Linked DNA regions of Homo sapiens. The protein of the gene in region 1 interacts with the protein of each later gene in a pairwise test. Each region holds a gene or a part of one and is shown in the gene's direction. Other genes may lie near its edges.

Region 1 (6,544 bases):
CAGAACTCTGAAAATTGACCAATACTTCAAATAACCCAAGGTAAATTTATTCAGGAAAATGGCTAAATTGAAGTAAGAAGAGTGAAACTTGCAGCATTTTAACTAGACATATTTTCCCATTCCAAACTCACCAGCTCTGCAGTAGCTTTGACAACTAACATCCTATAAAAATGTTTAAAAGCATCAGTCTAGCAGGAAATGGAGGGTGCAAAATGGGGTTGGATCTTCTTCAAAGCTCCATTCCCGTTACCAGAGATGCCATCATTATTTTGACCTATCTGTTGGTTTCCTGACAAACTCTACTTGCAGGGGTTTCTTATTTGACCTAACTCAGAACTCACCCACGGAGAACAGTCTTTTCCTCAGGGACATTTGTTGGAAACAATCAGAACAACTGCTTAACATCATGGCTGCCTAAGGCAATGGATAGAAGTTGGCGAAAAAAAATCAGCTATTCAAAAAGCCTAAAAGAAAAAGCTCAAGAAAATGAGATGTCCATAGGAATTTATTAAAACTCTAATATATTCCTGAGAATCTAGAAAGCCGTACAAACATGCAGGACTGTGCTTATGATCAGAAACAACAACAACAACAACAAAAACTAAGAAGGTCTTGACTTCTCACCTCTGGCTGACCTTTGTGGCTGTGTGTAAGCAGAAGGTAAGGCCAAGGCAGAGTTGCCCAGTGCCTGGCTAAGTGTCAAAGGCATGCCCATCATGGACACAGAGTCTCTCAGCAATGACTAGGGGAGATGTTAGTTCCTGACATCTAAGGAAATCTCTGTCCACTTATCAGCTGACCAATAAGCTATCAGAGCAGAGACCTCATTGATCATACAAGACAAAGAATACAGACATTCTAGAATTATTTAAGAAAAATTACTGAACAACAACAATAACAAACAACAACAACAACAAACCCTGGGTAAGAGAGAAAATCTGATTTTCAGGGTTGCTGGATTGTGTTATTCAAAATTCCCCGTTTCTAACAAAAATGAATAAATAAAATGCAGGCAAATAAATAAGAAAATATAGCCCATACACATTAGGAAAAGGAAGTCAGCAGAAATTATTCCTGGGGAAGTCTAGATGTTGCACTTAATATATAAAGCCTTTAAATCAGTTCAAACATGTTCAAAGGATTAGCGAAAACTATACGTAAAAATTAAAGGAAATTATGAGAACAATTTCTCATCAAACAGAAGATATCAAAATATAAGTGTAAACTTTAATAACCATGGGTTAGGCAATCCTTTTTTAAATATGATCCCAAAAGCTCAGGCAACCAAAAAAATTTGATAAATTTAACATCATCGTAATTAAAAGGTTTGTGGTTTCAAGAACACTATCAATAATTGAAATGGCAAAAGTACCCAGAATATGTAAAGAGCCACTACAACTCAATAATTTAAAAAAATCCAATTAAAAATGAGCAAAGGATTTGAATAGGCATTTCTCCAAAGATTATTACACAAGTAACTGGTAAGGATGTAAAATCATCTTCAGTATCATTAGGCATTAGGGAAATGAAAATCAAAAGTATAATGAGAGTTCACTTCATATCCTTATGATGGCTAAAATAAAAAAGATGGACAATAGCAAGTGCTAGCAAGAATGTGAAGAGATTTGAACCCTCATACATTGCTAACTGGAAATGTCAAATGGTGCAGCCACTTCAGAAAACAGTTTGGCAGTTCCTCAAAACAAGAAACAGAGTTATCATATGATTCAGCAATTCCATTCCTGGTTGTGTATCCAAAAGAATTGAAATCATCTGTCACATAAGAATTTGTCCATAAATATTCCTAGCAGCATAATTCGTGATAGCCAAAACTGGAAATAACCCAAATGTTCCTCAACTGATGAATACATTTAAAAATATAATGTATACAGCCAGGTGCAGTGGTTCATGCCTGTAATCCCAGCACTTTGGGAGGCCGAGGCGGGCGGATCATGAGGTCAGGAGATCGAGACCACGGTGAAACCCCGTCTCTACTAAAAATACAAAAAATTAGCAAGGTGCGGTGGCGGGCACCTGTAGTCCCAGCTACTTGGGAGGCTGAGGCAGGAGAATGGCGTGAACCCAGGAGGCGGAGCTTGCAGTGAGCTGAGATTGCACCACTGCACTCCAGCCTGGGTGACAGAGCGAGACTCCGTCTCAAAAAAAAAAAAAAAAAAAATATATATATATATAAATGTATACATACAATGGAATATTACTCAGCCATAAAAACAAATCAAAACTGGGCACAGTGGCTCATGCCTGTAATCTCAGCACTTGGAGAAACCGAGATGGGAATATCGTTTGAGCCCAAGAGTTTGAGACCAGCCTGGACAACATAATGAGATTCAATCTCTACAAAATTATTTTTTAAAAGCTAGCTGGGTGTGGAGGTACATTTAGTTCCAGCTACTCAGGAGGCTGAAGTAGGAGGATCACTTGAACCTAGTGAGCCATGATCATGCCACTGCACTCCAGCCTGGGTGACAGAGCAAGATCCTGTTTTAATTTTTTAAAAATCAAATTCTGATTCACATTATAGTGTAAGCAAACCTTGAAAATATTATGCTACATGAAAACAGTGAGCCACAAAAGGCCACATATTGCATTATTTCAATCATATAAAATGTCTAAAATAGGCACATTGATAGAGACAGAAAGTAGATTAGCAGTTCCTAGAGGATAAGGAAAGGGTAAAATGGGGAGCAACTGCTAATGGGATAATGAAAATGTTTTAGAAATAGAAAGTGATGATTATGGCACAACTCTGTGAATATATTCCCCCAAAAATCCATTTAATTACTAAAGAGGTGATTTTTTTTGGTATGTGAATTATATGTCAATTTTTAAAAAGAGAAAAAATAAGGCAAGAGGAAGGTAAGATTATTTCCAGCTCATGATGTTCAGGAAAGCCCATTCCAGCATTTTACAATATACAGATGATTAGGCATTCAGAAATACAGGGGAAGGGAGTTGGAGGTGTGAGTTCTGCTCTGTGCAATCATTCAAGAGACAGGCTCCTTTCATGATATGGTCCTGCCACCTGTAACATGAGATTTCAAAGACAGGAGAGAAAACTTGTGTAAAATTATGAAAGAGCTAATGCGATGAGCCCCACTGTCAACATGCCATTAGCTAGAATTTAGTCATAAGGTCCTACCCAATTCCAAAGGTGGATGGAAGACGTTAATTTATCTCAATGCTCAGGAACAATACTTAGTATTGTCTCTGTCACAAAAGGAAAGAGGATACATTCCCAACCTAAGTAACTGAGATTCAGAATTAACCCTGAAATAAGCAGCTACAAACTATAGAGCACTAAAACCAAAAATAATCATAGAAGAAAAGAATATACAAAATTTTGTATAATCTGTTGTTCAGTTAATTTGGAAAGTAACTTTGCTGCCATCTTTCAAACCACCTTAAGCAAAATATTCAGAAACTTCAATAACTAACTAGTATCACCAGTCTTGGCTTGATAAGTAAAGTTACTAGGTATTTGTCGGTTCAACTTACGATACGTTAAACTCTGGAGGTTTAAAAAAAAGTTGCTTAAAAAAAAAAAACAGAATGCAGCTTATTATTTTCCTGAGTTCAGTGTAAGCATAGTTACATTAATGCCGTATGAGTTTAAAATATTGTAAATAAAAAGCACCTTTTTTCAGCTATAACACAAACTCCTCAATAGAGAAATATGGGATATTAGTGCATTAAAATCAACCCCTTTTGAACCCATTCATAATTTATAGCTACCTACATAGTTCTTCCAGCCATACCATGTCTATCTGTATCATTAAATATCCTCTCTGTTTTTCAGGTATTTTAACTGAACCACTACTGGCTGGGTTCTTAATAAAAACAAAAAATTAAGAAGGTAAATAAATTCAGTATCCTAGCCAAAAAGCAGAGTATCTGTTTCAGGAACATAAGACAGTATACTTTCCATTTCATTTTACACACACACATGATGTCTTTTACATAAGAATGAACCTGGCTGCCTGAAGATAGCTTGTTTTGATATCACAGAATGGCCTCTAGGGATCAAGTTGTTTCCCTTGAAAACTTAAAAAGGGAAATTCAGTCTCTTATCCGGCTTGCTTCTCGACTTCAGACTTCAGGAGCTTCTGCATCTGAATCTGTGTCACCCTGCAATTTGTGTCTCTGAAACATAATCCTGTCTCACAGACTCCCATTGCATTGGGATTGGTCAGAAGGAAGCAGAGGAGGAGCCACCGTGAACATGTTTTTTTTCTCTCCACACATCATAAAAATCAGCAGCTGGCGCCTACAGCCCCTAACACTCAAAGCAACGCTCAGGCTGGAAACAGAAGCTTCCGAGAGGCAGCCGATGTGAGCATGTGCGCACAGATTCGTCTCCCAATGGCATGGCAGCTTCAAGGAAAATTATTTTGAACAGACTTGAATGCATAAGATTAAAGTTAAAGCAGAAGTGAGAACAAGAAAGCAAAGAGCAGACTCTTTCAACTGAGAATGAATATTTTGAAGCCCAAGATTTTAAAGTGATGATGATTAGAGTCGTACCTAAAAGAGACTAAAAACTCCATGTCAAGCTCTGGACTTGTGACATTTACTCACAGCAGGCATGGCAATTTTAGCCTCACAACTTTCAGACAGATAAAGACTTGGAGGAAATAACTGAGACGACTCCCTGACCCAGGAGGTTAAATCAATTCAGGGGGACACTGGAATTCTCCTGCCAGCATGGTGAACTCCACCCACCGTGGGATGCACACTTCTCTGCACCTCTGGAACCGCAGCAGTTACAGACTGCACAGCAATGCCAGTGAGTCCCTTGGAAAAGGCTACTCTGATGGAGGGTGCTACGAGCAACTTTTTGTCTCTCCTGAGGTGTTTGTGACTCTGGGTGTCATCAGCTTGTTGGAGAATATCTTAGTGATTGTGGCAATAGCCAAGAACAAGAATCTGCATTCACCCATGTACTTTTTCATCTGCAGCTTGGCTGTGGCTGATATGCTGGTGAGCGTTTCAAATGGATCAGAAACCATTGTCATCACCCTATTAAACAGTACAGATACGGATGCACAGAGTTTCACAGTGAATATTGATAATGTCATTGACTCGGTGATCTGTAGCTCCTTGCTTGCATCCATTTGCAGCCTGCTTTCAATTGCAGTGGACAGGTACTTTACTATCTTCTATGCTCTCCAGTACCATAACATTATGACAGTTAAGCGGGTTGGGATCATCATAAGTTGTATCTGGGCAGCTTGCACGGTTTCAGGCATTTTGTTCATCATTTACTCAGATAGTAGTGCTGTCATCATCTGCCTCATCACCATGTTCTTCACCATGCTGGCTCTCATGGCTTCTCTCTATGTCCACATGTTCCTGATGGCCAGGCTTCACATTAAGAGGATTGCTGTCCTCCCCGGCACTGGTGCCATCCGCCAAGGTGCCAATATGAAGGGAGCGATTACCTTGACCATCCTGATTGGCGTCTTTGTTGTCTGCTGGGCCCCATTCTTCCTCCACTTAATATTCTACATCTCTTGTCCTCAGAATCCATATTGTGTGTGCTTCATGTCTCACTTTAACTTGTATCTCATACTGATCATGTGTAATTCAATCATCGATCCTCTGATTTATGCACTCCGGAGTCAAGAACTGAGGAAAACCTTCAAAGAGATCATCTGTTGCTATCCCCTGGGAGGCCTTTGTGACTTGTCTAGCAGATATTAAATGGGGACAGAGCACGCAATATAGGAACATGCATAAGAGACTTTTTCACTCTTACCCTACCTGAATATTGTACTTCTGCAACAGCTTTCTCTTCCGTGTAGGGTACTGGTTGAGAATATCCATTGTGTAAATTTAAGCCTATGATTTTTAATGAGAAAAAATGCCCAGTCTCTGTATTATTTCCAATGTCATGCTACTTTTTTGGCCATAAAATATGAATCTATGTTATAGGTTGTAGGCACTGTGGATTTACAAAAAGAAAAGTCCTTATTAAAAGCTTAACAATGTCTCCTTCGTGTTATTCATAAGCATTGGACACTTTGCGTGCTTTCGTAACATAGAAATCAGAGCCTCATTAAACATATTCTAATAAATGCTTTATTATATTATATTATCCACCATTGAAATGTAGAGAGTTCATTCTAGCAGTTAAGGGAAAATATTTAAAGAATAGATGTATAATCATTTTTAAAAATATCATCACTGAAATTTCAAGTAATTTAATTAAAGGTTTGTTCATCCTCCCTGTGCAGAAGTAGAAATGAAGCTCCTCTAGAGAGAAAAACAGGTGCTGAAAAAAGAGAGATGCTGAGTTAGAAAACTATGTGTACTTCTCAGACACAGAAAGATTCATCTCCCTTAGCAAACAGCCTGATATTTCACACAGGCAATTCGGTTTGGGGTGGGTGGGAAAAGGCAGCTATAGGGATGAAAGTGTCCTGGAAAACCTAAGTTGCCATGTCAAGCTAAATTTCCTGTTACCAAATTATCCCTAAACAATATTAATAAAACAGAGAATGGGGATTTATGCCCCCTTTAAACA
Region 2 (7,264 bases), on another chromosome or scaffold:
GACACTTCCAAATGCCTTGTCACCTCTCATCTGCAAGTTGGCTGTTTTCTCATTTTCTTTATCATTGTGAGTTTATACCTGAAAAAAATTAAAAGAAAAAACAAAAAACAAAAACCTTTCCTATCATGTTGGCAGAGTTTCCAGAGGGAGCAGAGGTAAATGCACATACTTGATCTACTTTGTTTATCAGGAAGCCCTAGCCCATATTTTTATTGAATTAGATTTCACTAAAGACAAGTTTCTGCAATTGGCTATTAGCAATCAACTTTTTTTGGTGACAAGACTGAATATTTAGGATTAAAAGTTTAAGGATGTTCATTTTATTTCCCAGCTAAAAAAGAATGTAGTAGCCCAGCATAGTGAATTTATAATCTTTGGATTTATTTCCTTGGATTTACTTATAACAATATGTTTGAAATGTGTTAAGTAGAAAAATTGGCAGAAGTGTATGTGTGTGTTTGCAACTGTGACAGCAAGGGAAACCGATGGAAGAAAAGAATGAATCCAAGAGAAAGCAGAATGTTAGATTTTGATTGGGACGGTGGTGGTGTTTCAGATCCATAGCCATATAAACATTTTAAATATCATCAATAATTTTTTAATAAGTACCTAAATTTGATGGTTGTTTTTTTAAACTGTCTAACGTTACAGACCATTCATCATCTATTTGTGTCTTAAGAATACTGCCCCAGTTTCGCTGTGGGTCCCTTTGAGTGAATGCATTTCTAGCTTTTGAGGCCACGCTATCTGTAGTTCTCATTATCTTGGTTGCTTTCAGAAGCCTCATATAAGCCAAAGGGTGAACAATAACCAGAGAACAGAGATTCTTAAATTAAGCAACTGAAAAGAGTCTGCTTTGGTTCATTAGCCCAAATAGGATCTTTTACTTTTTGAGTAGCAATCAAAAGATATTGGATCTATCATTTCTCTTGTTCTCTTAAAAAATCACTTAAATTTCCTTTAAACAATCTGGTGATGTGATGTCAGATTTTTGCCCATCATATTATAACATCATTGTTAAGTAGTATGAATGGAAATGAAACATACACCTCAAAATATCTAACGGTCCTGATATAAGGCTAAAGAAAACAAATAGTCTTTTCTTATCTTTCCCCTTGGATGAATTTAAAATAGATAATTCTTAACAGTTTCATCCTACTTCCGTAGGGTGAATTTTCCCCCAGTATGGCTTTGGAGTAAATTTTCACCTTTTTGCTAGATTTATGACTGCTATTACCAATACTATTAATTATTTCAGTATGATATAGCACTTCTAGGAGGCTGACCCTACTTAATTGGAAAAAAAGAAAATATGTTGGAGCTTTAACATTTCTTGATCATAGAAGGTACTGAAACATAACTCATGATTCTAGGCAAACTTTGCCATTGAGTTTTTGTGTGACCATATAAAATAATTTAAGTTTTCTGTGTCTACATTTGTAAAGTATATGACACTCAACTGTATAATGAGCTCACAGTCTAGTGAGCTTGATAGAAGATAAGCTAATCTGGGGTAGAAATCATGCTTTATTCATATTTGTTTTCTCTTGCTTAAATTCATAATAGTTACTCAGTAAGTGTTGACTAAAAGTGTTTGAGAGAGAAACAAAATACAAGGTGAGTGAAAATTCTGAGATCCTTGTGAGAATAATTCATATAAATTTAATATATTCAGCTTGATTCTAAAGGCAATGTTGAGAGGAGGCCCGTGGGGCTGCATGTTCTTCAGTGTAATGTGAAGTACTGAGCTGATTATAGTGGTTATTCAATTAAAAGATATGTATTTTAAAATTATTATTATACTTTAAGTTCTGGGATACATGTGCAGAACGTGCAGGTTTATTACATAGGTATACACGTGCCACGGTGGTTTGCTGCACCCATCATCCCGTCATCTACATTAGGTATTTCTCCTAATGCTATCTCTCCCCTAGCCCCCCACCCCACAACAGGCCCTGGTGTGTGATGTTCCCCTCCCTCTGTCCATGTGTTCTCATTGTTCAACTCCCACTTATGAGTATATTTTTAATGGGCAAGCTCTGCTCAAATACAGGCTACAGTCAGTATGTGACTGAGCTGTGATCTCTCTCGTCAAAGGGACTACAGCGCACCCTTTGAATTACCTTCACACTCACTGACGGTTTTAAGAGTTTGGCCACTTTCCCCACGTCTGAAAGCGACTCTACCTTAGATGTGAGAAAGATGCGGCTGACTTTGGCTGGCAGATGGAGAAGAATGGAAAAGCAGCAGACAGTGTTCATGCATGGCTGACACTAGAAAGAATTCTTCTGGATTTCACAGTCATTGAAATGAAAAGATGTGATCCAGAACAGGATCTTCCTTTTAACTGGTGTCTGCAGTGTTCTCTCCTCTGCTTCTTCACTCATTTCAAGAAGTCTCTAAGGGGCAGCCTGATGTGGAAAAGATGTTAAGGGAAGAAGAGGGCATCCTAATTCTAGGTTTGATAAGGACATTTTTGATACTGGTAAAACCCTGAAATTATGGAAATTATGATTTGTTCTGTATGCCAACGAGAATCGTGGTTTTCCTTTTGCTCTTTTCCTTGCGAAGGAGCCAACTCCTTCTGGATCTTTGTTTTTATTTTTTCCTCCTTAAGTCACTGCTGAGGTATTTTTAAACCAAGCCAACACGTATATTTTATTCACCGAAGGAAGAACAAAGCATCTGCTAATAGAAGCAGTGAAAAAAGCACAGCAGTCAGAGGCCTCGTGTCTAAAGCTCAGTTCATTACTCCTAACCTGCCATTGGCCAATATTTCAACCTTTCTGAGTTGCTCTTTCTCATCTGCAAAATGGGGTTAATGGAGGATTTCATCTGCAAGTGGGGATAAGAGACATGAAAAGAACTGACGCGAAATAAACACGAGTTGAATCCTAACAATAATATTTTGACTATGTAGTTACAACAAACTTTTCTTTCTTCTTTTTTTTTTTTTCTGTGAGAAGTGCCTTTGGTGGATTTTGAATTCTTTTTCATACTGCCTGTTCTTTGGTGGGACTCCAGCAACATTGCTGTAACTCGAGGATATATGGCTGCAATGTGTGTTTGGCTTCCTTTCTCAAGGGGGTCAAATAAAAAGGCAACTGTTTAGAGAAGGCACCAAAGTACAAAACAAAAATCTCAGAATATGCCAGCCAATCTTGGAAAGTCATCTGAAGAAGAAAAAGTGCTGCTGAGGAAGGAAAACGGCCCTTTTGTGGGCATCACTTCTGCTCTTCTGAAAAAAAGCCCCGATGCTGCAATATTTTTCAAGGCAGAATATCGTCCCAGATGGAGGAGGGAGCACTGACAAGCAGAAAAGGAGAGACGTGCGGTTTCGAGGCAGCGTCTGTAAGGGGTGGAGAGCGCGGGGCTCGGAGCCTCGCAGTTCTTTGTTGGGGGCGCGGGCTTCGTTATTCCCGAGGCAGCAATGGCTCCCCCTCGGAGGTCCCTCCGCGGAGACCGCCTCGCGCCTCTCGCAGTCCCCAATCCCCGCCCCTCCCAGCCCTCGCTGACCCCACAACGTGGTCGGACTGCGGTGCCTTTAAGGCTTTTGCCTGCTGCACATGCTCAGCTCTTTGTGTGTTGTTGGAGTTTTTCTCTCTTAAGAGAAAAAGAAGAAATAGGCAGGAGGATGGGGCGGAGGAAGGGGGAAGCGCTAGGGAAAAAGCGTTGCACTTTTGCAGCTGCAGACGGCGGACGGGAAGGACTTCTTTTCTGCTGAAGCTGCGAAGCCTGTGTCGATCTCTCATTCGTGGGGCTCCCGGGGCGCGGGGTGCGGGTGGGGCCGGGGTGCCCGCACCGGCCGGGGGGAAGGGCACGCGGGCCACACCTGGGGGGCCTGTCTCCAGTCAGCGCGCGGGCCAGGCGGGGTGGGCGCGCGCGCGTGGGGGAGTCCCCGGTCCCTGTCAGGGGCGGGGCGAGACCAAGGCGCCGGGCCTGTGGGGAGGAGTGTAGGCGCGCGCGAGGGCGGGGGGCGGCCCCACGCATCGTGGGCTCCCGGCGCTGCCGCTGCGGCCGGCTCGAGGCACCGGAGACAGAATGGCTGCCGGGGCGCCCTTGACCGCCGGGCGGGCGAGGCGGGGCTGACCGCCGCCTCCTTGATCGCCCCCTTCCACGTTGGGCGCGCCCACTTCGGGGCGCCCGCTCGGCCCCCGCCCTCCTGGGCGCGCGGCGCTCGGAGCCGAGGCAGTTGGCGCGGGCCGCGGGCGAGGCGGGGCCGCGCGCGGGGTCCCCTCCTCCTGCCGGTCAGGTCCCCTCAGGAGCGCCGGGCGCAGTCTGCGCCTCCCGCTCCCCGCCTCCGGCCGGGTCCGGGACGCCGCGGCTGTGGGGTCGGCCCGCTAAGGACAAGGTCGGGAGACTGGGTGGCGATGCCCGAGTGCGACTGGAGGCAGCCGAGCGGAGGCGACGGCGGTTGGGATCTGTCCCTCCTGACCGGGGAGCGGGACTCGGACGGGCGCCGGTGAGGAGGAGGAGAAGCGGCGGCGGAGAGGTTTTCTGCGGCCGGAATTCCCTTCAACAGCATCCCTGTCGGCGCCCGCGAGCGCAGTCTCGCCGGGCAGGGGCGCCGGGGAAGATGGAGACTGGGGGCCGGGCCCGCACTGGTACCCCGCAGCCAGCGGCCCCGGGGGTGTGGAGGGCTCGGCCGGCGGGCGGCGGCGGCGGGGGCGCCTCCTCCTGGCTGCTGGACGGGAACAGCTGGCTGCTGTGCTATGGCTTCCTCTACCTGGCGCTCTACGCGCAGGTGTCCCAGTCCAAGCCGTGCGAGAGGACCGGCTCCTGCTTCTCGGGCCGCTGTGTCAACTCCACCTGCCTCTGCGACCCGGGCTGGGTGGGGGACCAGTGCCAGCACTGCCAGGGCAGGTTCAAGTAAGTGCCTTCGCCGGACCCCGAACCTCCAGCCCTGCCTCGCTCCCGTCGCGGCCTTCCCCGCCCCCCTCGCGGCCTCCCCCGCCCCCGTCGCTGCCTCTGATCCCCCGGCCGTGAGTGAACCTCAGCGCGCGGCGGGAGCGGGCGAGAGTGGGGCCCGCGCCGCGCCCCCTCCAGCCCCGGGGCGCCCCGGGAGAGCTCGGGCCCGCGCGGAGCCCTGACCAACGGGGAGCTAGGCATTTCTCGAGCGTTCCAGATGTCCGCAGCGACTTCTGATCCGCTGCTCAGCACGAACATTTTCACAATCAGTTATGATGCCCAGCACCATTTTCTTGGGATAATATTTAAAAATCAGAAATTGTCCAAGTTACTTATGAAATACATGCGCATTGTGAAAAATTCACAAAAGTGTAAAGGTTCAGTTATGATCTATGAGTGCCTCTCTCTTTCCCCATTCTCTTCTCTCTAGAGGTGACCCCTTCTAACATTTATTTAGTCATCATAGTGATGTTAATAAGTAGAGTTTATGATGGACTTGCTAAGTGCCAAACACTCTTCTAAGCGCTTTATGTCAATTTTCTCATTTATTCCCTACAACAACTCTGTGAGTTGCTAGAATTATTATGCTGGATTTACGGAGAGAAATCGAGGCGATACATTGAAGTAACTTGGCCAGGATTACACAGTAGTAAGGGCCGAGTTATGATTCCAAATCAGCTGGCACATTCTGGAGCCAGTACACACTCCAGAATGTGTACTTTTAACGAATTTGCTGTGTTGTATTTGCTAGGACAATCTTGAATTGAGAAATACAAAGGTGACTTTAGGTTAGATAGAAGGACGTTTTTATGTGGTGAGGATAATGGATTTTTTTCTGATCGGTTAATTCACTGTCAGCTTTTGTGCGGGAACATCGCTTTGGCTTGTTTGAAGCTCAAGGAGCCTAAGAAGTTTGCTTGCTAAGGTGAAGGTACTTTCTTCGTACTGGTTGGTGTTTATTACATTCTTGCCTGATATAAAAAGCAATGGGTCACAGTGTAGGGGAGTAGCAAAAGTCACTTAATATTGGGGCAGGCTTCTAACAACATGCAGGTAACAGTCATTAAGAAAGTCAGCTTCTTAGTCTTCTAGATACTTAATATGAAGTTTGCTGGCTGGTTTGTGGCTCTTGAATATTGTAGATTACTGATATTGTTAGGCTGATAGCCAAAATCTAGGTGAAATTTCTCTTGGGCTCTAAGGCAAAGGTAAGACTGGTTCACCTTATTAATGTATTCTAGGACAATTTCCTGGAATTTTAAACACAGCATACTTTCCTTTTTTTTTTTTTTTAAAAAAAAACTTACTATTACTGATTAAAATAAATGTCCCTTAAAACTCAATGTAAAAATGTATATTTTTAAAATGGCACTTTAAAATTTTAGGTAGAGTCTATGATTTAAATTAACTAGTAGGTTTTGGAAGTGAAATCTTAAAGTGAAGTTTTATGAAACTTATGCAATAGGTTGAAATTTTTCTAGGGTTTATACTTTAAAGGTAGTATAGTAATGTAGTTTTAAAAATACTTTTTAAAAAAATTAGGAGAGATGCTGATTAAAAGTTTAAAAAGTGTTTCAAGATGAGGAAAGAGATCTTAATGAATTCTGCTTGTTAGTTGTTTTTTTTTGCTTGTGTTCTTAAACGTTTGCTATGACAGTAGAATTCAGCGTCTTTACCTAGCAAGAGAGAATTTTGAACATGTAAACTGGTAGTCAGCAGTGAAAAAGCCTCATCCATTTTTTACATTTTTTTTACATAAATAGGGAGAGTGCCTGATTTATATGTAGGGATATTGGCTTTTGTGTGGGTGGGTTTGCTCCGTTTGTCTAAAGAGGACAAAATTTGCTGCAGTCCTGAGAAGCTTCATTTTAAAGTAGCGGAACTTGTTAATCAGCTGGATCAGCAGCCTGTGACCTCACTAGCAGATGTTGTCCCAGTTAAAAAGATCACAGATCAAGTTAAAACTAGCTTAAATAACATTGAGAGGTGGTGTTCATAAACAAAATACATTAGTGAGTAGAAGAAGAATAGATATTTGATGTAGATATTGTTAAATAACAATAAATCCTGAGCTAATCACTGAGTATTCATCTTTTCCTTGGAAGCTATTATTTCCTAGGACTCATTGTACTCTATTGGGTAAATGCTTTTGCATTTCTCTGTGGAATACAAGCTATTAATTAGAGTAAATATAACTGGTGTAACGATCTGTGTTTTTATTATGTATACTCTTGGGGATAAAGAACACATTGGTATTTAATGTTAAAGAGAAGGATTATGTATAGTAGAAAAGAATTCTTCTTGGTAAAGTACATGCAAATAAACCTATGAAAGGTTTATTTGAAGATAGTAGCTT

The links.
Region 2: the proteins of MC4R (region 1) and ATRNL1 interact in a two-hybrid assay, tested with the Homo sapiens proteins (one study listed by BioGRID).

What each region holds. Positions count from the first base shown.
Region 1 is NC_000018.10:60,370,528-60,377,071, reverse strand, and holds MC4R (melanocortin receptor 4), read left to right. Parts: upstream 1-4,296; 5' UTR 4,297-4,722; coding exon 4,723-5,721; 3' UTR 5,722-6,010; downstream 6,011-6,544.
Region 2 is NC_000010.11:115,089,175-115,096,438, forward strand, and holds the start of ATRNL1 (attractin-like protein 1 isoform 1 precursor), read left to right. Parts: upstream 1-4,190; 5' UTR 4,191-4,370; coding exon of another isoform or gene 4,371-4,462; 5' UTR 4,463-4,576; coding exon 4,577-4,869; intron 4,870-7,264. UniProt on the Homo sapiens protein: May play a role in melanocortin signaling pathways that regulate energy homeostasis.